5 separate regions of the Homo sapiens genome follow, and regions 1, 2, 3 and 5 are each linked to region 4. Evidence: fine-mapped expression QTL. A gene starts in region 4. Each other region holds a variant in brackets. All regions are shown on one strand. Distances are between the middles of the regions. Region 1 overlaps KIZ (kizuna centrosomal protein). Region 2 overlaps KIZ (kizuna centrosomal protein). Region 3 overlaps KIZ (kizuna centrosomal protein). Region 4 holds the start of KIZ (kizuna centrosomal protein). Region 5 overlaps LINC00237 (long intergenic non-protein coding RNA 237).

Region 1 (5,105 bases), 35 kb after region 4:
ATATTCAGAGTTGCGCAGCCATAATCACAATCAATGTTAGCATACTTTCATTCCTGAAAAAGAAACCCCATACCTGTTGGGAATCACTGTTTACCTCCCCCCGATTCCTTCTACTCCCCACCACCCACCCCAGCCCTTCGGTCCCCAGCCTGGGGCAAACAGTTAACTACTTCCTGTCTCTAAAAATTTGCCTATTCTGAACATTTTCTATAAATGAGATCTTACAGTATATGGTCTTTTATGACTGGCTTCTCATTTAGCATGATATTTTCAAAGTTCATCCATGATGTAACAGGTATCAGTAATTCATCTCTTTTCATGGCTGAAAATTATTCTCTTGTATGAATGTATTACATTTTATCTAGTCATCTAATGTTGGCCATTGGAGTTATCTCCACTTTTGGCTATCATAAATAATGTTGCTATGCACATCCTTTTACAAGATTTTGTGTAGTCATATGTTTACACTCTCCGTACTTCTGCCTAGATATGGAATTGCTGGTTAGATGGTAACTCTGTTTAACTTTTTCAGGAGCTGCCAAACTCTTCTAAAGTGGGTGCACCGTTTTATATTCCCATCAGCAGTGTATGATTCTAATTTCTCCACATCCTGGACTACACTCGTTATTGCCTGTTGTAGTGAATTCTTATAATTTTATGTTGCCTCAGCATCCATTTTAAATCTAAGTTGAACCTTCTCATACCAGAAGCAGGACTCAGTCACCCCTGACACAGTTGGCAGTTCCACCCTCCTTCGCAGTTCCTCAGTGTGGTCGGTCCAGATAACCTGCCTTACACAGCTGCTCTCTGGTGACCACTTCCCTATGGGACAGCTGGATGCAGCCTGCTTGACAGGCCCTTCTGACCTTCGCATCCCCCATGGACCATATGCCACAGTGACCACCTCTCAGTCACTGGGTAACCTCCCAGAACTCATGCCTCCTTGCTTTAAACTCACCAGTTAAAACTCCCCAGGCTGCCTGTGGGAAACCTGTTTGGATAACACCTGCGACTCAGTAAAGACATTGGCTCATGTGTCCTTCCCCTCAACCCCTGCTTCTACCATGTAAGGACACGGGTCCCTTTTCTCTCTCTCTCTGCCTGCGCTCCCTGATGTTTGTGTGTGTGGCCTCCAGGTGTGCCATGTACTCCCCAGAACCTGTAAGTGATAATGTCTTTATTTCCATCTCATATTTCTCCTAATTATTGGAGGGGTACTCTCCATCTTAAAAATCCTAAATTAAGACACCTGTCATTCTTAGTATAGCCATTGATATGGGCTGAATATTTGTGTCCCCCCCAAAGTTCATATATTGAAATTCTAATCCCCAAGGTGATGGTTTTTGAGGGTGAGGACTTTGGGAAGTGATTAAATCAAGGGGGCAGAGCCTTCATGGGTGGGATTAGTTTCTTTATAAAAGAGGCCCGTGGAAATTTGCCTGCCCCTTCCACCCTGCGAGCACACAGCAGAAAGATGCTGTCTGAGAGAAAGCAGTTCCTTACCAGACCCAGAGTCTGCTGGCGCCTGCCTTGATCTTGGACTTCCCAGCCTCCAGAACTATCAGAAACAAATTTCTGTTATTTATGCACTGTTTATGGTATTGTTATAGCAGCCTGAACAGACCAAGACAGCCATCATAGTGGGTAAAGTGATATCTTATTGTGCTTTTGAATTATGTTTCTCTAATGAATAATGATATTAAGCATCATTTTATGTGTTTATTGGCCATTCATATATCTTCTTTGGAGAAATGTCTATCCAAATCCTTTTCCCACTTTTAAGGGCTGTTTGTCTTTTTATTATGTAGTTATATGACTTCTTTATGTATTTTGGGTACTAGACCCTTATCAGATACATAATTTACAATATTTTCTCCCATTATGTGGGTTATATTTTCACTTTCCTGATGACGTCTTTTCAAAGCATGTATTTCTTTTTTCAAAAACAT[A/G]TTCTATACTTTCTTTTTTTTGAGATGGAGTCTCCAGGCTGGAGTGCAGTGGCATGATCTCGGCTGACTGCAGCCTCTGCTGCCCGGGTTCAAGTGATTCTCCTGCCTCAGCTTCCTGAATAGCTAGGATCACAGGCACCTGCCACCGTGCCCGGCTAATTTTTGTATTTTTAGCAGAGACGGGGTTTCACCATGTCAGCCAGGCTGGTCTCGAACTCCTGACCTCAGATGATCTGCCCACCTTGGCCTCCCAAAGTGCTGGGATTACAGGCATGAGCCACCACACCCGGCTTACTTTCTTTACTATATTTGTTTTGTGAACTATCATTGTTATTAAAATTAAATCCTATGGACTTTACTGCTTTTTGCTCATTCATTATGTAGGAAGCCATGAGTTTAATAATACATGGTAGGTGCTGATTTCAATAATCATGCTTTGTTTGACCTCCTTTCATTTCTGGAAAAAAAAAAAAACCCCACCTAATTGTTTATACACAGTATGTTTAACTCACATCTCTTTTGGTGTTGCAGGTTGCAGTGCACGAGGGGATTAACTCAGGAACAGCCATGTCAAGAGGATTGTATCAACCAGCAACAATCTTTATGGGCCGCCAAATGTCAGCCATCTTAAGCATGAGAGATTTCAGTACAGAGCACAAATCTCCCCAGCCCACAAAGAACTTTTCAATTCCTGACCCACATTCACACCGACAGACAGCCCAGAGCAGTAATGTGACAGACAGCTGTGTAGTACAAACTAGTAATGACACACAGTGCTTAAATAAGTCTGACAACATAGATGGAAAGGCATCTCTTCAGATTGGTGAGAAAATGCCAGTCACAGCCAGTGTATTGTCTGAGGAGGAACAAACTCATTGCTTGGAGATAGGAAGTAACACACGTCATGGCAAGAGTAATTTATCTGAAGGCAAAAAGTCTGCTGAACTCAATTCCCCGTTACGGGAAAGATTAAGTCCAGAGAACAGAACCACTGATTTAAAGTGTGACAGTTCCAGCGGATCAGAGGGAGAAATACTGACACGGGAACATATTGAAGTTGAGGAAAAAAGAGCCAGCCCGCCAGTCTCTCCGATACCAGTTTCAGAATACTGTGAATCTGAAAATAAGTGGTCTCAAGAGAAGCATTCTCCTTGGGAAGGTGTTTCAGGTGGGATGAGAGGCTGAGTTTGGTTGCTGATTTTTCTGGGTGGTAGTGATCTTATGTAAGGACAAAATATACTAATTATCTCTCTTTCATAAAATAGTATCTTTGCCAACAAATTCCATTCTAATGAACTCTTAAATATGTACATGGGAGTGAATTTGCTGATTTTTAAACCCACTGTGATTTTTTTAAACATTTGAAAACGTGTTTAAGCTTTTAAGTTCCGTAATGAATTGTGTGTGGGTTGCTTCTCCATGTTTTTAACTGATGAGTAATTCTGCTGTGTGTTACCTTGCTTCCTCCTGAAGTCAGTGATTGGTAATCAGTTCATGTCGCCACTTGCAGATCATCTTGCTCACAGGGAACCAAAGTCACAAAAGCCCTTCAGAAAAATGCAGGAAGAGGAGGAGGAAAGTTGGAGCACCAGCAGTGACCTTACCATTTCAATAAGTGAAGATGATCTGATTTTAGAGAGCCCAGAACCACAGCCAAATCCAGGTGGCAAGATGGAGGGAGAAGATGGAATAGAGGCCTTAAAATTAATCCATGCTGAGCAAGAAAGAGTTGCCCTATCCACTGAAAAAAATTGTATTTTGCAAACCCTAAGCTCTCCTGATTCAGAAAAGGAATCCTCCACTAACGCACCAACAAGAGAGTAAGCCATTCAATTTTTTTTTTCTACTGTTCTGTTTTTAATTGTAGACATTTCTAGAGACCATTCCACTGGGAATGTATTATCGAGCACTCAGCCATGAATGTGTAAATTCCTTAAGTCTCATAAGTAATCTTGTAGGCAAGACCTAATTTTCTTTCTGTCCTTCTTTCTTCTTTCTTTCCTTCCTCCCTTCCTTCTTTCTTTGACAAAAAAACTTTAAAAGTTTGAATATCATTGAATCATGGTGATTGCAGCTTATAATTATATACACATAATCCCTGGTTAACTTATAAGTCATTCCCCAACCCCCTACTCTCCAGGCTTTCAGAAAATAAATCTGTTTTGAAGTTTTGGTACCACAGAAGGTGACAGTTAAACTTACTAGGAATGCAGCATTAGAGTCTGAGAACTTTATGTCTAATTAATTTGCTTAATCCTTATATTCCTTGCCATATTATCATTTTTGTCATCTGATTAAATATGAGTTAATAAGTTCTTCTAATTGTATATGTAAGCCAGATTTCCTTTTTTGAATCTAAATAGGAAACATTAGAATCTCTAATGTTAAATGGGAACATCAGCATTATACATTTGAGAACTTATATTATCCGACTGATAAAAATTTGTATATGTTTTTGTGCTACTGATTGGAGACGCTAGAAGAAAACTTTGTAGAAAGTTCTTGTGTATCTACTATGTAGAAAACTTGTTAACTGTTGAAAAGTGATTTTGTGCTGAAAAATGGCATTAATAACATCAAATCTCTTTTAGGGGTAGAAGGAACCTAAGTAAACAACCTAAGGTAGATCTCACCTTTTACAAATGAGGAAACGAAGGCCGGGGCAGAGTGGTGTCACGTAGGTCTACTGGATCTGCTGGGGCAGAACACCCCACAGCCTGTCTGCCTGAATGTCACACCACTGCCCCACCCCCAGAATTTTCTGTTACACCGTAATGCTGGTCACCCTTTCATTTCCACAAAGCTGGCAGCAGTGAAAAGCCAAGTGGGCCTTTTTGTACGGCATATGTTCTCTTTAGAACACCATTGTACCTTTTAATATATTGCCTCTTACCATTCATTGTCTACTTATGGTGAAAAGTTTATGAATAGGCTTTAATTGATAGATTGTATCCAAACTGATGTTCAGGAAATATTTATTAAGAGCATATCCAAGTACAGAGTTCTTGCACTATGGATGGAAGAACCGACATGGTTCCTGTCATTGGGAAATTTGATTTATTGGAGAGGCAAGCCAAATGGATTTTTCTAGTAATAATACTTCTCTCATCAAAGAGGCACAGGTAATACATATTACATCATCAGAAACTTTATTAC
Region 2 (5,105 bases), 20 kb after region 4:
GTTGAGTGACTTTTTCAGTTGCATTGAGAGCAGTCTAAATTGGGCTTTTAAAGATACTTCTTTCTGTTCTTTAGGAAGACTTTATGCAGTTATCACTTCCTTTTTCCTTCAGCAAAATGAATTGAATAAAACTCTCATATTTCTATGAGAAAGTGCTCTGTCTTTGGAAGGTATGGCTCTGAAATGATCCTATAATGAGGAAATCAGGTACAATGCTCATTGATCTCAAAGAGCGTAAGAAAACATTTGTAGTCACAAGAAAAAAGAATTTTTATTTAACCTGTAATTATATGTTTATATTGTAATTCATCCCCCATTTCTTTTTGAGATACTATCCCTTGGAATCTGTAAAGGATGCCTGTTTAAAGCTCTTGGGGCTAAAATGTAAACATCTCTAAGTTCAGAGGAATAGATATGGAACAGAGAGATGTAAATTGTATCTTTGTTATTGCTTTATCTATTCCTAGTTTATTATTTTATCATTTGTACTGGCCTGATAAAATTTTCATTTAATTGGGTATCTATTTAGAGAATTACTGCCATCTATCATATAGTACTCTGCTGGAGAAAAAAAAATCCATACCTAACTGTTACTAAAAATGAGACAGCATATATTACCTTTCAAAATATTTTGAGGGAAACAAATCAGTTTGGTTATTATTGCCCATTTGTTTTTCGTATGTCAAAACAAAGCTCAGGCCTATTTTATGTTCAGAGAACTAAGGAAACAGCTTTCTCATTTCATCTCATAGGTGTGTTTCTAATTACAGTGCATACCTGCCTAATTTAGAAAATGTTCTGATACTTATCTTTGATGGACCACAATCCATGACTTTTTTAAGGCTTTAATTACTAGCGTACTGAATCAAAGTGCTTTTTTATGCCTTGCTTTTAAGAAAAAGCCATTTTAAGATTGAATCACTTTCACCAATTATAGTGTGGTGATGATGCAGACATCTTTATGTAGTTATTAGTGCCAGAGCAAATTGGTTTCTGATCATTGATGTCTGCAGTATATTTTTATTCATAGAAAATGGAATTTGTTTTAAGTTGATGATCTAGCAAGTATGCTCAATTGCTGTGACGATCAGAATCATGATATTTTGTAGATATCATATAGATAAGAAATCAGTAGGATTGATTTTTTTTGTTTGTTTGGGGCAAAACTTCTAAAAGGAAACACTGTCTAATGTGCTACTTTCATAATAAAGGAATTGTATTTTTGTGATAAAGTATCAAACTGTATACATATATATACACATATACATGTGTATATATATAAAGATTTTATTTCCTAAGTTGATGAAAGTAAAAATCCATCAAATCTTATTTTATTTAAAAATTGTAGCATTTTGTAAAATTCAACTTTTGATATGTGTCATTTGCAAAATTGTTCATTTTCTAAGATAAGGTGAATTTCTTGGCAACATCAGCTTTTACTTTCTACTTCAATGCTCCCTGTATGTTGTAAAGACCGCAGTATACAGACAGGTGCTAGTTGTAAAAATATTTATCACAAAATCAAACTTTCTTTATATTTAGCTCGAATATGAGACTCAAATTAAGAAGATGCTATGCTCAAAAGATAGCCTGGGACTAAAAGAGGAACTGACAGATGAAGACAGAGAAAAGGTAATAAACTAAATTGGTAACCTTTCTGTTAACAGAGGAATTCTGGAGTGTTTATATCTTGAGATATTGTTTTAAATAAAATCATCTTATTAGGAAGATCCCTTTGATTAAACCTTACGTGATTATTTAAAGATTTTTGCTTACAGAATATTGCTTTAATGTCTAATTTAATTAAGTTTGCTGAAAGGGTGTTACTTTGTGAAGAAAGGATAGACTCTAAAGAAAACCTCAGTGTTGTCAGTAGGTAAAATTGTTTTTCTAAATCATGCCTTGTAGCTGCTCTTTTCTTAGTTTGAGAAGTGTTTTAAATGAAAAGTAAACAAAATATGGCATTTTGATTCTTTTATTTGTGCGAATATACATAATTTTGTACATTTTAACCTTTGCACAGAAAACGTGGAAAGAAAAGATTGCATATCTAAGCAATAGACAAAAAGATCGACAAGGAATACTTAAATAAATTCTGCTATGTATCTGCTATAATGCAGGCTTCTAATCCTCCTGCCTATCTCCATATAAATGATTCTGTTCAAGACCGTAGATGTTTTCTTCACTAAAAGCAGTAAAGCTCTTTTAGATGAAATGTCTAAAAACATCTTGTAATAACTTGGAGCATGCTGGCAAGAGTAGTCACTTGTGACTATGTGTGAAACCCCCTCAGCCAGTCGATATTGTAATAAGCAAAAATGGTAGCATCACTCCATTATTCAGAAAAGCCAACAGCGTGCTTGTTCCTTAGGCTGCAGCATTCATTAAGAAAAGCTTACTGGGCTGAAAGCTGGAAACAGATGATAACGGGATATGATTTTCATATTTAATGCTTTCCTTGGAAGAGTGTGTGTGCTACAGATTGA[T/C]AGAAGAATCAACTGCTACTTTACTAAAAGACTTTCAGGTTTGCCCTATAGCTACCGATGGAATCATTCAGCCAAGAAATTAACTTTTTCTCCTTTTACCTGCTTTATATATCTGCTAAGCAGGCTGCCTGGCTGCCAGTAAATGTTATTATGCAGTTAACTGTTGGGTATTTAAGACTCTTATCAGAAAAGAAACAGAGGCCACACTATTTTGTTTTTATAGTAGGAGGAAGGTTTTAGTTTTTCTTTCTTCCGTGCATTAGCAGGCATTAATCTGAGTTTATAGGAAGTTTTCGTTTTCCTTCCTCATAGATTAAAAAATTAAAAAAAAAACCCTAGAACTTAGAGCATTCTTTAAACTGTAAGATACAAAACACCAAGCCCCAGCAACCTTGACCTATATAAAAAGGCTTTAATGATAAATGACGTATATGCCATTCGATGTAGGCCAAATGTGGTATGATGTGATAGAATTTTAGAGCATTCAGGCAGTTTTTCTATTTGATATTCGGTCATGAAATAATTGATGTGTTTTAATCTAGAAGCCAGTTAGTTCTTTCTATGCCATTCTTGATAGACATATTCTTAGCACGGCAGTGTCAATGGTACTTCAGGAAAACGGAAGCTTTTTTTTTCTTTATTTACCCACTGATTCTTTACCTTGCATGTAGTTGTGGAGTCTCCTTTTAGGACATATTTAAAATTAGGGCAAGAGACATACAGTTGACAACCCCTTAAAATGTTACATATAATAATTAGAAGTCTTTTCATTTATATGGAAAGGTGTCATTTCCTTAAAAGCTTTGACTATTGGCTGTATAAGAATCGATTAGGTAACACTTTGAGAAATTTATATTTTGCATTTTCTAATTTTCCATTGATGTTCAACCAATTAAAAGGTAAATACATTTCAGCAAAATCATGTTTTAGTTAATCCTTATACTAATTCCTGAACCATTCCTTATCATATGAGTTATAGCTTATTGTTTAGTGGAAATCCAAGCTTCTCTTCTTTGGGCAGTCATATGAATTGGTCTTGGTCATTGACCTCCAGGGCCTTTCCTGAAGCATAGTACAGTCACTGGTTGAATCAATAAATAGTTGTTAAGCATCAGTTCTCTTTGAGAAGCAACAGTAGGCCCCTCTATGAAGGCCACAATTTTCTTACCTTCAGAGTGCTTCTCAGAAAGCAATGTTCTTTCTAAGGCACAGAATAGTGTGTGATAAAGTGCCAGTCACGTGGGACAAACATGAGCAATGAGAAGAAAGAAGATTCTGCTTCCTGTGAATTGAGTAATCCCAGCCCTGGTGGAGGAGGTGGTGTGTGAGCTGGCATAGAAGGATGTGCAGGATGCCAGTCAGTGGTAGAAAATGAGCTTGGAAAGCTACCTTGTGGGATTTGGTACCTGGAACTATGGTCCCAGGCTAAGAACTGAGATTTCCTCCTGGAATTTGTGTGTGTGTGTGTGTGTGTGTGTGTGTGTGTGGCAGCAGATGAAGGAAGGACTTGTGAGCAGAGCAGTCACATCCCATGTGTGCAGCTGCGGGAAGATGAGGCTGGCAGTGCTGTGCAGGATGAGCCTGGGGAGGAGTACGTGGAACTGAGGAAATCAGGCTCCATTCAGACAGGAGGAATTAACAGAATGGAGGACCTGTATTGGGGATGGCCATTGAGGTGGAAAACACTAACAAAGGGGAGAGGATCTATCAAATTGGTGATCATTCTGAATTATAAAAAGGTATTTTTTAAGTGGCTATACAGCTTTCAACCATAGGCAGTAACTTGGATGCCAAGAAAAGTCATCAAGTGGTGTGTGTCCATTTTTTAAATATAAAAACTCTGGCTCAGTTTTGGTGTAGGACATCTATTATTTGCTTGCATCCAGTAGTTGCTCTTTAGAATCATACATTCGCTTAGAAGGATTAATAGTTAGTCTGTTCATCTGCCATGCTTGTTTCCACTATTAATTTACTTAGTCAGCTTACAAAAAATGTGTCTTACCAAAAAGGCACATTTCAAGCCCCACTCAGATCCTCACAAATTTTACTATAGTAATTCTTCACCTCTATTATATATATTGTTATTTTTTATTTTGGGGGCAAACTCTGTTTCCAGACATGTTCTTCTGGTTGAAGAACGGTGACTAGAGAATATACATAAAAACACATAAAAATGTATGTCCTCAAGAAAGATTGAGATGGCGTTTTTGAATGACAGTATACATTTGGGGATAGGGTTGTAAGGTTTCTTTGAACTATTATGCTGTGAAATATATTCTACTAGAAATAGAAGCAAACTGATCATACTCTGTCAGGGATGGATAGGTGTGGAGGACCAGGGAATTTCATCACAGAGCTGAAGGCTTGTTGAGGAGCTTCACTTCCACTGTGGTAACCCTCCCTGCAAGGATCAGGTGGGAGAATGGTTATAAAGGTGTTATTCCCACTTTTAATACTGGTAGTAACAATGGGTAATAATCACTGCACTTTTACTTTGCTAGGTGCTGCGTTAACACTTTATGTGTATCAACTCATTTAATCTTCTCAACAACCCTGGAAGTAGAGGATATTGTTGTCCCCATTTTATAGTAAGGCTCAGAAAATTTAGTTAACTTGCCG
Region 3 (5,105 bases), 120 kb after region 4:
GCGACCAGATTTGCATTTCAGAAAGCTCACTCTCATTGCCTAGTGGAAAATGGATAGTAGGGGACAAGATGAGTGTGTGTCACCAGTTAGGAGGTTGTTGCAGAGAGAGAAGCAAGAGCTGATAGTTTTGTTGACCAGTGTACTGGCAGTGCCCAGGGAACTGGTGAGGACTGCAGGAAGTATTGCAGGGGGGTCGAGAGGGGTGGGGGTGGAATTGGCAGGACCGAGGGCCAGACTGGATGTGAAGGAAAGAGGAGTGGAGACTGGAGAGGGGCTTGGGGAGACTAGTGGGTCAGGGGTGCCATTTGCTGAGACGGGAGGAGCTGAGCTCACCTGCCACTGTGTCCTTTCTCCTGTGTCAGGGGCTCCCTGCTGCCCCACCCCGCCACACCTTGTTCCCCAGTCCTGTCCTGTGAAGGCCTCTGCCTTTGGAGGTGCCGGGCTTCCTCTGTGGTCCTGCAGCTCCCCCAATCACCTGCCACAGTGCTCTCCATCCACCCAGCTGGCAGAGATCTCTCCTGCTCCCCCTGTGGCTCTTCTTGTATGGACCGCGGCTGGCAAATTAGCCTCTTTCCACCCCTCCTAGCATTTTTATAATCCACCCTCCCCTGCAGCACCTAGCCCAGTGTCCTCAGGTAGGGGGAGGTGGGGAAATAATAGACATCCCTGCAGTTGCATTTAGTGTGTGTGTGATGTGTGTGTCACTTTCTGTAAAATGGGTTCTTGCAGGCTCACCTCACTGACAGGTCCCCACAATCCTGGCAGCTCCAGGACTGTCAGTCAGCTGCTGGCCTTTCCAGATGCTCGTAGGGGTCTTCCATGCTTCATGGAGAAATGGCTGTGAGCACTACTCAGTCATGGCAATTAAAGAAACAGGCACTAAATTTAAAGGGAACACTGAAAGGTAGCCTAGAAAATGATACCTTAGTGGAGCATGTTTTTCTGAAAAAAAAAAGTAAATTATAGCAAAACGTAGATTTTTAAGCCAAAAGTCAACCACACTTGGCCCAAAGGGAAGGAAAAGATATATTTGCAGGGTTTCCTGTGTCCAGAAGAACAAGGCCCTGGCTGTGAGAAGGGCGGTGGTGGTGCGTGGGGTAGGGCAAAGTGTCGAGCCATGCACCAAGAATGGTTTCTCTCCCAACATCTCCTGTGACCATTCAGGCAATTCTGAAAGAATCTCAGCATCATAAAACATTCGAGTGACACTCCCTGAGGAGACTTTTAAATTCATTAAAATTGCAAAAGCTCCTGAAAAGGCACACAGAGAAATCATATCCCGTGGAGCCAGTTTTCTTGTCATATTGGCCTCAGTCGAGACGGTCCTGGACGCCACGAACACTAGCATTTATGTGACACTTGCAGGGCCCTCTACCAGGTGTTTGTTTTGAACTCCTTTCTTAACTGTTAGTATTGCTGCCACTGGTTTGACTAAGTATTTTAACTTCCTTACCAACATCTTGAATTCCCTACTGCAAGTGTTTCATTTTTAGCTTGCCTGAAAGCACTGAAGTTTGATGCATCACTGTCTTCCAGAAGACTGTTGAGGGAAACCGGTCCCCTGCCTCAGGGGAACATGCGATCATCCTCCCCCAAGAACACGTGGCCCCACACAGGCACAGCTCAGCAGGGCGGGGTGGGCCATGCAGACCTGCCGAGGGGACACACGCAGGACGGGAGCAATGCTGTTGAGTAGCGACCCTCCCGACAAGGCCACGCTGCATCCCGATATTTTCCCTTTACTTTTAAACTCTGGGAAGTAAGTGTAAAGTTCTGGCCTCCAGTGAATCAAAGTGCTTCTTCTCTAATGCGTTCATTATGAAAATATTAGTCTCATTGTCTTTTCTTTTTCAGAACTTAGACTGTTTCTTTATTTTGCAGGCATGAAAACAAAAAGAAACCCGTGATCAATTTAAAATCTAATGGTGAGAGAGATAATCGGACACTAGATTTTCTTTTTCTGTTTTAACCAAAAAACTCTGTGACATGCATTTGTTGTTTGCACCCTCATGTGAGTCCTGAAGCGGGCATGCTCACAGGGACTGCCATTGCAGCTGTCCCTGGGGTGGAACCTGAGGGCTTCTGGAGGCTCAGTTCTTCACAGACAGGACCACACGGGTGCCATGGACCACAGGGGCAGAGCATTGTAATTTGCAAGTATGAATTTGCAGGGGATCCTGGCCTCCATGTCTAATTAATTATCAGCACCCTGTATTTTACCAATGAAATGTTTCTTGCCTCTCTCCTCATCCTCAGAAGCACCCATTGCTCATGACCGGACAGGCTCTTGGAGTAACTCTAACTGGTTTCCTCATACCCAGTTCCTCCCAGCTCCTGGGAACTCCCAGCTCCTCCACCTGGCCACCAGCCTCCAAACCCTGGCTTCCCCCGACCTTCCTGTGTAAGGACGGCCAATGCCTCCCCGTACCTTCAGGGTA[G/A]AGTCTGAGCTTTCTCCATTCCTGGGAGGCCCCAGCCCTGCTCTCCAGCTTATTCCTCCCAAGGTCGCCTCTTTGGGTCAAGCCACAGTCAGCTTTTTTCAGCTGTAGCACACCTATGCCTCTGTACCTTTGCCCATGTTGTTCCTTCTGTAGGGAGTTCCTTTTCCTTTTCCTCAGCCCAGTGAGCTCCTATTCATCCTTCAACACCCAACTCACGGGAAAAATCTAGCCCTCCTACCATAACACTGTGGCATATCCCCTGCCCAGCTTGGGCTCTCTCACCTCCTGTCTCCTTAAACCCCTTATACCTTAAATTAAAGGTATAATTTGATTAATAGTTTTACTGACAATAACAAAAATATTCGCTGTTTATTTAGCCCCAGTATGTCCCACTTTGCTAACCCAGTATGGAAACTGATTCAGAGCTGCTGTAGAACCTAGGCCTAGGAATCTGCCTTTTTAGCAAGCACCCCACTGTGAATCACTCTTCTAGAAGGACAGCTACCTACTGTGGGGGAGACAAGTACCCAGTGGGTTGTGATGGAGAGTATGGGCTTGAGTCAGATGACTTGGATGGGACTCCCAGCTTGGCCACTCACTGGCATTGTGATTGTGGCCAATTTCTTAACCCCCTTCAGCGTCCGTTTGTTTGCACAGTGAAATGGAAACATTAATACTTACCTTGCCAGGCTGGTGCGAGGATGAGATGGGGTTGTGTATGAGAAGTCAGCACAGAGCTGGCAGGTGGTGCCATGCAGGTGTCAGCAGAGTTAAGGGATTGTTGATGTAGTAGACGTGGTCCGCTCCACTACACCTTGCCAGACCACCTGCAGGGCACCTCAGCTCCAATTCACAGACGCGCCTACAGCTTCCTGCACCAAGCAGCTGTGTCTCTCTGCCTGAGGGCTTTCTCTGGCTGCAGGAGCGTGCTCAGCCCTCACAAGGCAGCCCAAAGTACCAGGGAGTTGATGCCCTGGGTTGAGAGCAACCCTCAACCAACAGAGGCAAGTTGGTGGATCAGTAACCCCACTCCCTTGCTCTTCACTGGGACAATCTGGGGAGAGTTCTGCAGTCTCTCAGGGGGCCCCAGCAGGCTGAGCCTTGCCTGTCCACTCACTGCCAGGCACCCACTCGTCATCATACCCTTCATTGGCTTCCTGTCTTCCTTGTGTCACTGTCCCCATGGTTCCTGGGATCACCTCTCAAGTAAATGATGTGGACCAAAGTCCTGTCTCAGGGTAACCATCTCTGCTTATTCCTCTGCCACGTCTTTCCCTTCTCCTCTCTGCTCTCATAAAGAAGAATGGGAGATGAAAGTGGAGGGGCAGCTGAGGTGGGGCGGCATCAGGCTGATACAACACCCCAGGGAACCCTGCTTCCATGTAACCCTGACCTTAAATCCCTATCCTATAATAAAGAGTTGGGCACAACAGAAGGGAAAAGGAAGTATTCTGCAAATTGTTTTCCATAACAGTGCAGAGGACACACTTTGCAATGTGTAATTTGTGCAGTATGACATGCATTTGGGTGTGTCTGGTCAGGTACATCATGTGGTGTCCCTGTTATGCATTTTGCAGACTGACACTCTGCTTAACCAGTCCTTCCGTGCTGTGCTGTTTTGTAAGCTCTTAACCAGAATGCAAAAATGTTAAATAACTGTCTGGTTTTATTTTCCAGCCCTCTGGGATGAGTCTGATGACAGTAACTCAGAAATTGAGGCTGCTTTACGCCCCAGAAACCATAACACCGATGATTCTGATGATTTTTATGACTAACGTGCTGTGACATTGGTTTCAAATAAAGTCTTTAAACAAACTAAAATCCTGTGTTAATATGTGATGTCCAAAATAAATATGTTCTTTTAAGTTTTCTCACTGTTTTATGGGAAAACTTAGGACTACATTGCTATTCAAGTGAAATTTTATGACATAAATATGAACTTGCATATTCATTTTTAAGTTCATCATGAAGCAAAGTGATGAATGCAATGCCCATCAAAATTCAAGGTGGTTTCTATGTTAGAAATTAGCCAGCTGATCTTAAATTCATATGGAAATTCAAGAGGCCCAGAATAGCCAAAACAATCTTGCAAAAGAAATACAGTTGGGAGGCCGAGGCGGGTGGATCACTTGAGGTCAGGAGTTCAAGACCAGCCTGGCCAACATGGTGAAACCCCATCTCTACTAAAAATACAAAAATTAGCTGGGCGTGGTAGCATGCACCTATAATCACAGCTGCTCTGGAGGCTGAGGCAGGAGAATTGCCTGAACCTGGGAGGCAGAGGTTGCAATGAGCCGAGATCACGCCACAGCACTCCATCCTGGGTGACAGAGCAAGACTCCTTCTCAAAAAAAAAAAAAAAAAAAAAAAAAATAGAGTTAGATTTCTCACATTTCCTTATTTCAAAACTTACTGAAAAGCTACAGTAATTGAGATACTGTGGTACTAGATAAACAGAAATCAATGGAATATTGACTCTGTTGATTCATATGTATCTAGAATTGAGAATACAAAAACACTGTCACATTTAGTCAATTAATTTTTGACAAGGGTAACAATTTCTGCTACTCAATGGGATAAAGAATAGCCATTTCAACAAATGATGCTGGGACAAATGGATAGCCACATGGCCAAAGAATGATCTTGGATCCCTACCTCACACTGTAT
Region 4 (5,105 bases):
GCACATTACCACTGAATCAATTGGATATAATCTGAATAAAAACTAAATAAAAGTCACATCAGTGCTACCCTTGGACCAGGGCAAGAAGGCCTCTGCCCTGGCTTCTGTGTATTAGAGGTTCTGTTCTAGCCCTTCTCTGCCCATGCTGCTCCACGCAAGGCAAGGAGGTCCCAGGGCCAGATGACAGGCCCACCTGGGGTGCTCACACACATACACACACATGCTCTTCTAGAACACGTTCTAAGTACCCAACACCCTTACCTTCCCTGCTCAAAGGGGCCCAAGCTGCTTTCTAAGGCTTTAAAAGGCCTCTTGGCTGGGTCTTTCCTGCAAGGGTGACCATCACTGGCATGCTCACTGCCCGGCCAAGAGGAGGCTGAGGTGGGGATGTAGGCAGAGTTGGGACTTGCTGGCTGGAGAAGAGGAGGAGAAGAGGCAGGGCACACACATCCCTGCTAGTGTATGAGACCCCCTCACAAAGCAAGACTGAGCCTGGGGTGGGAAATGGAGTTGGGGGGAGCTGGAGAAGCAGGCAAACTAAATTCCACCCTGGTTGTCCAGGTTCTTAAGAAGGCATATTGGTCAAAGTGGAGAGGAGAACACGTATTTTACCTAAGTTTGTTATCTTGAATTATAATTCAATATTTAGGCGGATGGTATGAGGGCCTCCATTCACACTCTTGCCCTGGAACTGGCAAATGTGAATGGAAGGCTGAGTAAAATCATAGTTTTGTGTTGTTGGCCTTTGAGTGTTCCATCTCTCTTACAATTTTAGTTTGTCACACCTTGCACCTTGTATGTGTAAGTAAAATTAATGGCATAGGAAAGAAACCAAAAGAAGTGAACAATAAGAGACTAAAGAAACTCTACAGGCCGGGCATGGTGGCTCATGCAAGTAATCCTAACACTTTGGGAGGCCAAGGTGGGTGGATCACCTGAGGTTGGGAGTTCAAGACCAGCCTGGCCAACATGGTGAAACCCCGTCTCTCCTTAAAATATAAAAAATACCAAAAAAAACAAAAATTATCTGGGTGTGGTAGCGCACACCTGTAATCCCAGTTATTCAGGAGGCTGAGGCACGAGAATCTTTTGAACCCGGGAGGCAGAGCTTGCAGTGAGCCGAGATCACGCCACTGCACTCCAGCCTGGGCAACAGAGTGAGACTCTGTCTCAAAAAAAAAAAAAAAAAAAAGGAAAGGAAGGCAGAGAAGCAGGCTAAGGCTTAATTTTTCTGCCCAGTGGGTTTTGAAATATGGTTGGCTTCCTTCAGGAAGCTTTTTCCCGACGTTGGTGATGATAATAAAACCTGATGCTTTCTATGTGCTGGGCCCACTTATAAACACTAACACATATTAACAATCGAATCCTAAACTAATCCTGTGTTAACAGCCTCCCACTTTACATATGAGGAAACCTGGGGTGACTTGCACACGGCTTGGCAGCTGGGACGTGGATAGGGAATGTACACCCAGGCAGTCTGGCTCCCGGGCTCCTGCTAGAGGATCCTACAGGACATTAGGAGCATTGTCCCTTAGAGCTGTCTGCACAAACGTCTGCTTCCCAAGCAACTAGTTATCAACTTTTCCCTCTCGCCAACGATACTGGCACCTGGAACAATCCTTAGATTCAGCACGGATTTTCGAGTAAGGGGTTGGTCCACTGTCGGGGCTGAGCACGGCTGTTTAGCATTTGAGGGTTTGTCTTTTTTTACTTGGTGTTTTGTGTCGCTTTTGAGTGCTGATATAATAGAACAAGCTTAGTACAGTGCCTGGCACTCAACAAATCCTGGCAAGAAAGGAGATCGAGGAAAAGAAGCAAGCGAGAGACGAAAGAAAGGGAGGGAATGCGCCTTGTAACATTAACGTAGCTTGTGCGAATCCTGGAAGGTGAGGGGAAAGGAGACACCGCGTCAAGGGAGAGAGGAGAGGGCACCGAGCGCCCGCCCCTCCGACGTGGTCCGCCCCGGCCTCACGACGCCCCGCCTCTGCCACGCCTCTTCCCCGCCCCATGCAGGTCTTCGTCCCGCCCCCCACAAAGCCGGCTTCCGCCCCGTCCCTCAGCGGCGCCCCGCCCCCACGGCGTCTTGCCCCGCCTCCTGCAGGCGGCCCGGCGCGGTGTTTACCCGCGGTGCATGGTGGGGCGGTCTCCTTCGGCAACCCCGGCCGAACGGCCACCCAGAGGCTGTGCTGAGCTGGCGCAGCGGCAGCAGCATGAGCCGGACCCTCGCATCGGCCGTGCCCCTGTCGAGTCCCGACTACTACGAGAGGCTGGGCCAACTCCAGCACGGGCTGCGGGACAGGTAAGGGCACTGGGGCGGGGGTGGGGAGTCGGCCCGCGCCGGGGGTCTTCCGCGTGCCCTGCCCCATTTTCCTTCCCGCTCCCCCGTCCGAGGTTCCCCGGGGCCCAGGCCCGCGCGCAACGCCCCCCAGGCTCCCAGTGGGGCCTGGAGGACAGTGTTTACTAGAGCCACCCCCTGTATTGGGGGTGGGAGCGGAGAGAGGTGAGAGACCGCCCCCGCCCCGTCAATAGCAGCTAAAGCCTGGTCTACGGTTTGAGGATGCGGCCGCGTCACAGAATTTGCCCAGAAGTGAAGGTGGGAGTTCTTCTGCCTGTCACTCTCCATCAAGCCTTGTGAGTTTCTCTTGTCCCCTTTTACACGCCCCCTCCCCACTCTCTTCAAATTGCCATCCCGCCGTGACAGCTGCACTGCATCAATGATGACAAGTCCTGGAACGCAGACGGTTGTGTGTGTGTGTGTCAAACATGTGCCCCCGTTTAAACTCAGGAGACTTTTAGGGGTAGCGAGGGCTGGCTAGATTTCCAGCGAAGGGATGAAATTTCCAGCTAGAGAAGTCCAGCTTCCAGAGGGTTCATGATGCCTTTGATTAAGATATGAAAGATGGGAACCACTGAAAACAGCTAGATCTAAGAGTGCATATAGAGAGAAAATTATACCGCAATGTACTATGAATAACCACGTAAAAGATAAATTGCTGGACCTCTTATTTAGCTGCTAAGTTAATTGGAGTTGTAACTCTCATTAGTTGACAAGAAAGGAAATACATTTTTGGATCTCTTGATAAACAAAACATTTAATGAGTGTTAAAAGTTACAAAATCATTCTAGTGAACAGGAGAGCTGTGTGCGTGACAGTGCTAAAATGATAACAATAATTACATGGAAAATAAAGGCAGAAGTGAGCGATTTTGAAAAGGAATTACATTTATCTTACGCTAGATTTAATTCTTGTCAGATATTTATAGAGCATCTACAACAGGCTTCCTTAATTGTCGTTAGCATTTTTTTTACCTTGTACTCCTTTTCTACGTCCTATTTTCTTTCTGACATGTCACCGCTCACCCATATCAGTGACCTCTTAATTTCTGACTTTAAAAAGAAATCTCTTCCTGTAGAGCCTTCCCTGTTTCAACCCATTCCCTAACTTTTGTGACTCTTGGCATTCTTACAGCACTCATAAATGGCATTCTTTTTGAACTATTAATTGTAAGTTATTTTTGTTTCCTGTGCTAGGAACACCTGGCTGTTTATAGTCCTTATGGCACAATAACTGTATAATAATTATGTACTTTATGATTAACACTTATTTAATTATTAAACAAGGTGAGGCTGTTGAAAATATATAAGGAATGTGAATCAAATTTTATAGCCTGTTCACGGTTCTGCATTTCGAGATTTGTTTTATTTTTAAGTCAGTACAAATCTGTTGCTGTGTGTGTTCATTTTTCATTTTAAGAATTTATAACTAACTCAAATTAATGCACACTGGACACAGTTATAGAGGCAAATAATTCTAGATACAGAAAAGGCTGCAGTAGAAATATCAAAACCTGGATTCTAGTCCACGAACAATTGTGTGACCTTGAGCAGGTTGTTCCACCTCTCTGAACCTTGGTTCTTTACCAGGAATGAGGGGGCTTGACTAATATGCAAAGTAAGGCCACAGATTTTTTTCTTTCTCTCTTTGCTAGAATAATGGGCCTTAAAGTAAAAAAAGAAAAAAAAGCTGAAAGCTGTAGTTTTGCAAAGCAATGTGTAAAGAATATTATTGTCTGTATCCAATTTGAGTGTTTGGATGTACCTTTTTGTTTGTTTGTTTATTTGTTTGAAACATAGTCTCACTCTGTCACCCAGGCTGGAGTGCAATGGCATGATCTCAGCTCACTGCAACCCCCACCTCCCAGGTTCAAGCGATTGTCCTGCCTCAGCCTCCCTAGTAGCTGGGATTACAGGCGCCCACCACCAACCCCAGCTAATTTTTGTATTTTTAGTGGAGATGGGGTTTCACCATGTTGGCCAGGCTGATCTCGAACCCCTGACCTCAGGTGATCTGCCTGCCTCTGCCTTCCAAAGTGTTGGGATTACAGGTGTGAGCCACTGCACCCGGCCTTGGTTGTACCTTTTTAAACAAAGAAACACAAAGCATCCCACTGATCACAGATACCACTGTCTCCTAAAATTCCTGAGTCATTTCATAGGGAGCAACCCTGGGTAGTCACAGCTGCTTTATCAATCCAGAAACTTCTGGGAAGTGGGAGACAAAAAAAAACTCCCTCTTTCTCAGCCCTTTTAGAGGTGGTCATTGCAATGTTAGCTGGTCAAATAACCAGCATATTTCCAGCCCAAGTCATGTTAGCTGTAGTTACACGTAGATGTAATTTTATCGTCTGAATGTTTTCCTATGTGTGTACAGTGTTTTTTCTGCATTGTGGTGAAAGTCAATAATTGAATCTAAAAGAGTCTAATGGAGTGACTTGTTACAGTGTGTATAGCACCCACAAGCATGGTAGAAACTTATAAGTGGAATTGGCTCTTACGGTTATACAAAAACATCCTTTTAAAAGGGCCCATTAGCCAGCCGCGGTTTTTTCAGTGCCTATATTGATTCAGAGTAAGATATCATAATAGTCTAGAAACTGACACTGAGATATTAGTAGAGTAAGCTGAAGATGGTATAGAATTGTGGTATCGAGACAAAAACAGAATAACAAGTGGCTTAAAAGTAGAAAACTCAGCAAGATAAGGACCACTTAGCTGTGTAAAACTGAAAGGTCCAAGTGAGGGGTGACTGAAAACATGAACTATGG
Region 5 (5,105 bases), 28 kb before region 4:
CAAGTATGAGATGACAATTACGCACATCACTTCTACTTGCATGCCACTGGCGAATGTTTAGTCACATGGTCCTCGTGTCGCTGCAAGGGAGGCTGGGAAATGTAGTTCAGCTGGTCAGCCGTGTGCCCAGTGAGAATAGAATAAATGATGACGAGTGGCAGACAGGAGTCTCCGACCCTGGAAGATTAGTTTGTTGCCAAAGTGCCTATAGCTAGTTAGTGGACAAGTGGAACTATAAGCCTTTCTGCACACTATTTTTTTCCTTACTCCCCTCACTTGGATTCCAGCCAGACTGCAACAGGGCTCAAATGTCATGCTGAAGAGTCTGGTATTCTGCAAGGTTCATCTCCCCTCATCACAGAAGCAGCAAAGCAGAATAAGCCGTTGGAGGCCCTCTCAGGCTCAGCCTACATGAGGTTGCTAGATTGGACTTTGTGGCCAAAGCAAATAGCATAAGGCCCTATGCTTTCAAACAGAGCCAGCCAGCCTCACTGCTAGCCCATGTAGCCCCGTGGTACAGATTTTTAGATGCACCTGTTACTTTACTGACAAACACCAAAACAATGTCTTAGAAACCATACAAACCACACAAATCAACAATGATGGGAAGGGCACCCCTATGTGACACTCAACCTGTCGGATTGGAATCCTAGCCAGGAGAGGGAGAGGAAAGAACCACGGGGCTAGCTGAAATCTATGGATATCAGAGATATTTTGCAGTCATCTCTGAAGAACCTGAACTTGCTTCTGTAGCTTCCAATTATCCACAGGCCGACAAAGCTGTTTCTTTTGGAACTCTGTATCACAGATGGAAATGCTAGAAGGTTAAGCCCACCCAGCACAGCTCATTTATACATTAAAATAGAAGAAAATGAAAGGTGACAGGTTTATCTAAGCGGATCCTATTCATAACTTTTACATGCTAACCTGAATTTTTCAAATTCACTTTTTGACTGGATTTGGGGTTAAGTTGGCCAATGTACAAATGGTCATTAAAAAAAGGGGGCAATGAAAGCAAATGAATTGTTTATTGGAAAAATTTGTTAAATGGCTCTGCACTGTTCTTTTATGTCAATTTAAAAAAAAAATCCTTTATGCTCCATAGAGATTGTACTAAATTTTAAAATCGTTATTCTGCCTTAACCATTCTTTAACTTTTCCCAAGATATAAGGTGTATATTTTTTTACATGTAGGTTGAAAATTACCAAGGTTTATTTCATTTAAGTTATTGGACACAACTCATTATTATATTTCTAATATTTTTGTGCAAGTGAACAAGAGTAGCAGTTACCTCTGATTTGAACCCTATACAGTAAAGTGGTACTTTGGATTTTTCCCCCCAACAATTTCCTGTTATGCTCAACAAACCTCTCTCCAAATGCAAACCTCAGTCTCAGTTAGTAGACTGTGTTGAAAATATGTGTCTAATCACCAAAAAAGCCAAGCATTTATCAGGATAAGCCTTCCAAACTCATCAACTTTAATGGTATCCAGACGGCTTTTCTGGAGAGGGCTCATTAGTTTAAAAAAAAATTCTCAACATTTCCATGTTCTGTAGCTTTACTGACATAGTCAAAAATATAATACAAGCTCCCTGCCTTCTTGTTTAGTAGCCATTTCCTGCCCATATACTGCCTTGAAAAATAGTCAAACAAATGTAAAGAAGATAAATATCAAGCATAAATGAACTAGCGCCAAAGGGGATAGGTTCTGTATATAAAAATGAGCAACACCAGTGGCTGCAGATTAAGAAACTGAATATGTTGGTGTTTAAAATTAGCATGGTTCCCCAAAGGATTGAAAATGTTCCATTTAAGAAAAGAAATGTTTTCAAATCACTCTGCTGACTAGAGGAGTCTGAATCAAAGTCAGAAATTAATAATAGGATGCAGACAGAGACCCCCAATCATAAATAGCAGAGATCATTTTTATATGTATAAAAGCCTGCATGGCCCAGCAGTGTCTATAGCTCTATGGGGAAAAAAACTAATGAAATGCAAGAAGAAAATGTTGAAAATAGAAATGAATGTGCCCGGTAGAAATGCTATTGTCATACTCTTGTGACACAATGACTTCTTTTCTGGAAAAGTAATTCTTCAATTGAGCCCAGGCAAGCATTGTATTCATTGTAAAGTTGTATATTTAAACCTGTAGTCTGAAGGGCTTGCCTGTATTTAAAGCTCAATGCTACCTGGGCTCATTAGAGTACCAGGACAAAGCTCTAGCATGTTACTGCTTTGACACTCCTCAGAACTTCTAGGTAGTTTTCAGTGGCTTCAAGTACTTAGATTGTCAGCAGTATAGGAAATAGAAAGTAGAATATTGAATGGGTGAGGTGTATACATCAAACATGTGGGAATGTATAGACAGAGAGATAAAGATCCTCCTCGAACATCCTATTATATTGCAGAGGGTGCAGAACAATTCCAGGGTAAACACAGGCTTGGAGTAAACAGAGCTGCAATGTGCAGGTTGCACGAATTAGAGCATCCCGAGTCTCATTCAAGATCAAATGGTTCCTTTCTAGGCTTTTTATCAGGAACAGGTTCTGCTCTGGGTAACAGAAAGATAAAAGAACATAATCGCAGCCATGAAATCTTTAGTGTAGAGACAAGAAGAGCAAGGGGTAAGTGTTTAAATTCAGGCCTGTTTTAACAACACAGCAGCCTCATTCTACAAGTGCCTCCTTTCCAGTTTGGGCCAACTCAGTGCTTTGGCTAAATCTGTGAAAGGATGTGTGCCCTCTCCATGGTTTTGGATAAACCTGTGCTTTCTGGGAAGTTGCTTTCAGGATGCGAGTGCACTGGCTGAAGGTGAAGATAGGAAGGACAGTGGTCAGGAGGAGGATAGCCCCGAGCCAGGCAGGACAATATCCAGCCAAAATAATTTACCCTGCTTTCTGGTAAACGCAATTTATTTTTATGTATTTATATTTGAAATAAACAACACC[TGC/T]GCACGTGGGGAGAAAAGTGAAAGATTCAAGAAACAGCACAGTGGAAAGTTGGTCTCCCTGTAGCCCACCTACCTTGGTTCCTTTCAAGTGGCAACTGTGAGCCTTCCTTGCAGATATTTCCATGCGCGAATTGTCACTCAATTTCAATCCATGATCTTTAAAAACACAGCTCCCTATCCCCATCCAGCCCCTCCCAGCACCCAGGTCTTCTCTTCCCCTTCAGGTCATTCTTCACCCAGCCCCACTCCCCAACATATTTCTTCATCTTGGGGTACCTGACAGACGACCTGCTGACACCCTGATGACCCAGGCGCCCTTCTTTTTTTATATATATAAGGGTTAGAGTTATTACTTAATGATAATTACTTATTTTACACGTTGTCGTCTGCTGATGTTTAAAAGATAAGAAGACATTTGTCAGGGCGGGTGCTTGAGGCTCTCAGAGGACTCCGGGAGACACTGCCAAAACGTTTCCAAACTGAATAGTCATTGGGCTGCCAGATAATTCAGAAACTATCTGTATGAGCTGTTTATCAAATTATTAACCGCACAGATGTTGTTTGGCTGAAGAGCAGCTGAATCCCCTCTCTGGCAGCCGCGGAGACAAAGGTCTCCAGGAATAATTGGAGATGTGCATGGAATATTAAATTAATTTACTGCTCTTAATTCTTATGCAAATTCTGACCTCCGATGGCGCCTATCAATTACCCCGCCCGCAGTGAAAGCGAAAGCGACAGTTTCTTCTCTTCGCTTTTTTTTCTTTTTTAAGAACTCGAAAAAGGAAATATTTGCAATAAGCAGGCGGTAGTAGCACTTCGTAGCTGGAATTATTTAATTGAATCTTCAAGTTTTTAGGGATGCCCGTAGAGGATAAAACCCCAGTGCTCAGCGGAGAGGGTGGGAGGGGTACAGGGGGCGGAGGAATCTGTTGGTTTGACTGTACACCTGCGGGCGGCGGCAAAATACAGCCACGAGCCGGGACCAGTAATGTCAAATAAAACATTGGCTTGTAGACGGACGCGGGCCTTGGGAATCGCGCGAGCCCAGCGTTAGCCCGGGGTTTCACCGAAGCCGGCGATTCGAAGGGAGTGGCGTTTCCGCAAACTGCATCGCTAGGGGCCCGGCGTGGAAGCGCCTCTGCGCAACTTTCCTCCACCGCTGCCTACAAGGGAGGCTCTGGCTTCCGTTTACTTATTTTTTAGGAGTTTTAACCTTTGGTTCCTGCTTTTACAACCGCTAACCCCAAAAACATTTTTTTTTTCTTTTTGTTCTTTGTAAAACCAAACCACTATGCTGTGCGTTCATGTTCAACTCTGTTGAAATCCCGGGTGGGCCGAAATAAGATTTAATTGTCTCCTGCGTGGAGAAGTGACACCCACTTTTTCCCCTGAATTGAGCAAACACCAGGGCTTTGTCTGAGCTTGTGGCTTAAACGCCGGGCGGTTTCTGCACCCAGTTGGTGGGTTGTAAGACAGGAGGTTTCCAAGTCTTTCATCATGTTTCTAACAAGGAAAACCAAATCGGGCCCATAATGTCATCAGCCCCGGCCCGACCTCGCCGGGACCTCGGCAGCCCGATGATGTCGCTAGCGGCCCCGGCGCAGCCACGACGCGCCGCCTTTCAGCTCCTCGCAGTCCCCACAAAAGCCAGACAACAATATCAATTAATCATGCAGCGGGCAAACAAGGAGATTTATCCCGCGACAAACAGCCCCACCGAGAGCCGCTGAATGGGCGTGATTAGCATGTGAAAAGGCGAGCAAAACTCCGCGGTTCAACAGCTAAAGAGCAATTTGATGGGGCTGGGATGGGGAAATTACTTGATTAGCGTCCATCGGAGGAGAACACGGTTACAGCCCCTCGGCCGGGAATCCGACAGGGGAACAAAACGCGCTGGTAAACGCGGCGACGTACAGGGAGCGCGAGCGAGGGAGGGAGCGCCGGCGAGGGAGGGAGCGCGGGGGCCGACATCGAGAGGCAATCGGGGTGGGGGCAGAAATAGGGGCTGACCCGCTAGCCCCCGCCAAACCGCGACCACCCTCACCTAGGGCTCCCGGGCGGACTCAAGACTTCACCCAGCGCTGGAGGTCGACCTTAATTTAGAGCGCTGCCCCGGCTCTGGCCCGGAAAGAGAGTGACAGAGGCGCGTGCG

What was found.
Region 1: its variant is fine-mapped to the expression of KIZ in testis (GTEx, PIP above 0.99).
Region 2: its variant is fine-mapped to the expression of KIZ in whole blood (INTERVAL, PIP 0.93).
Region 3: its variant is fine-mapped to the expression of KIZ in whole blood (TOPMed, PIP above 0.99).
Region 5: its variant is fine-mapped to the expression of KIZ in whole blood (TOPMed, PIP above 0.99).

Annotation. Positions count from the first base shown.
Region 1 is chr20:21,159,391-21,164,495 of GRCh38, forward strand. KIZ (kizuna centrosomal protein) reads left to right here. Exons shown (of 13, transcript NM_018474.6): 5 at 2,481-3,117; 6 at 3,460-3,769. Among named protein-coding and RNA genes, the nearest start is that of KIZ, 36 kb to the left of the region's middle. The variant A/G (reference allele first, on the strand shown) is at 1,950.
Region 2 is chr20:21,144,023-21,149,127 of GRCh38, forward strand. It overlaps KIZ (kizuna centrosomal protein), which reads left to right. Exons shown (of 13, transcript NM_018474.6): 4 at 1,543-1,632. Among named protein-coding and RNA genes, the nearest start is that of KIZ, 20 kb to the left of the region's middle. The variant T/C (reference allele first, on the strand shown) is at 2,487.
Region 3 is chr20:21,242,364-21,247,468 of GRCh38, forward strand. KIZ (kizuna centrosomal protein) reads left to right here. Exons shown (of 13, transcript NM_018474.6): 12 at 1,882-1,925; 13 at 4,116-4,259. The coding sequence ends at 4,213. Among named protein-coding and RNA genes, the nearest start is that of KIZ-AS1, 27 kb to the left of the region's middle. The variant G/A (reference allele first, on the strand shown) is at 2,439.
Region 4 is chr20:21,123,906-21,129,010 of GRCh38, forward strand. It overlaps KIZ (kizuna centrosomal protein), which reads left to right and starts at 2,177. Exons shown (of 13, transcript NM_018474.6): 1 at 2,177-2,299. The coding sequence starts at 2,211. RefSeq lists enhancers at 1,646-1,745, 2,646-2,695 and a silencer at 1,906-2,485.
Region 5 is chr20:21,096,387-21,101,491 of GRCh38, forward strand. All of the region lies in intron 1 of LINC00237 (long intergenic non-protein coding RNA 237), which reads right to left. Among named protein-coding and RNA genes, the nearest start is that of LINC00237, 7.4 kb to the right of the region's middle. RefSeq lists enhancers at 1-196, 4,396-5,105. The variant TGC/T (reference allele first, on the strand shown) is at 2,952.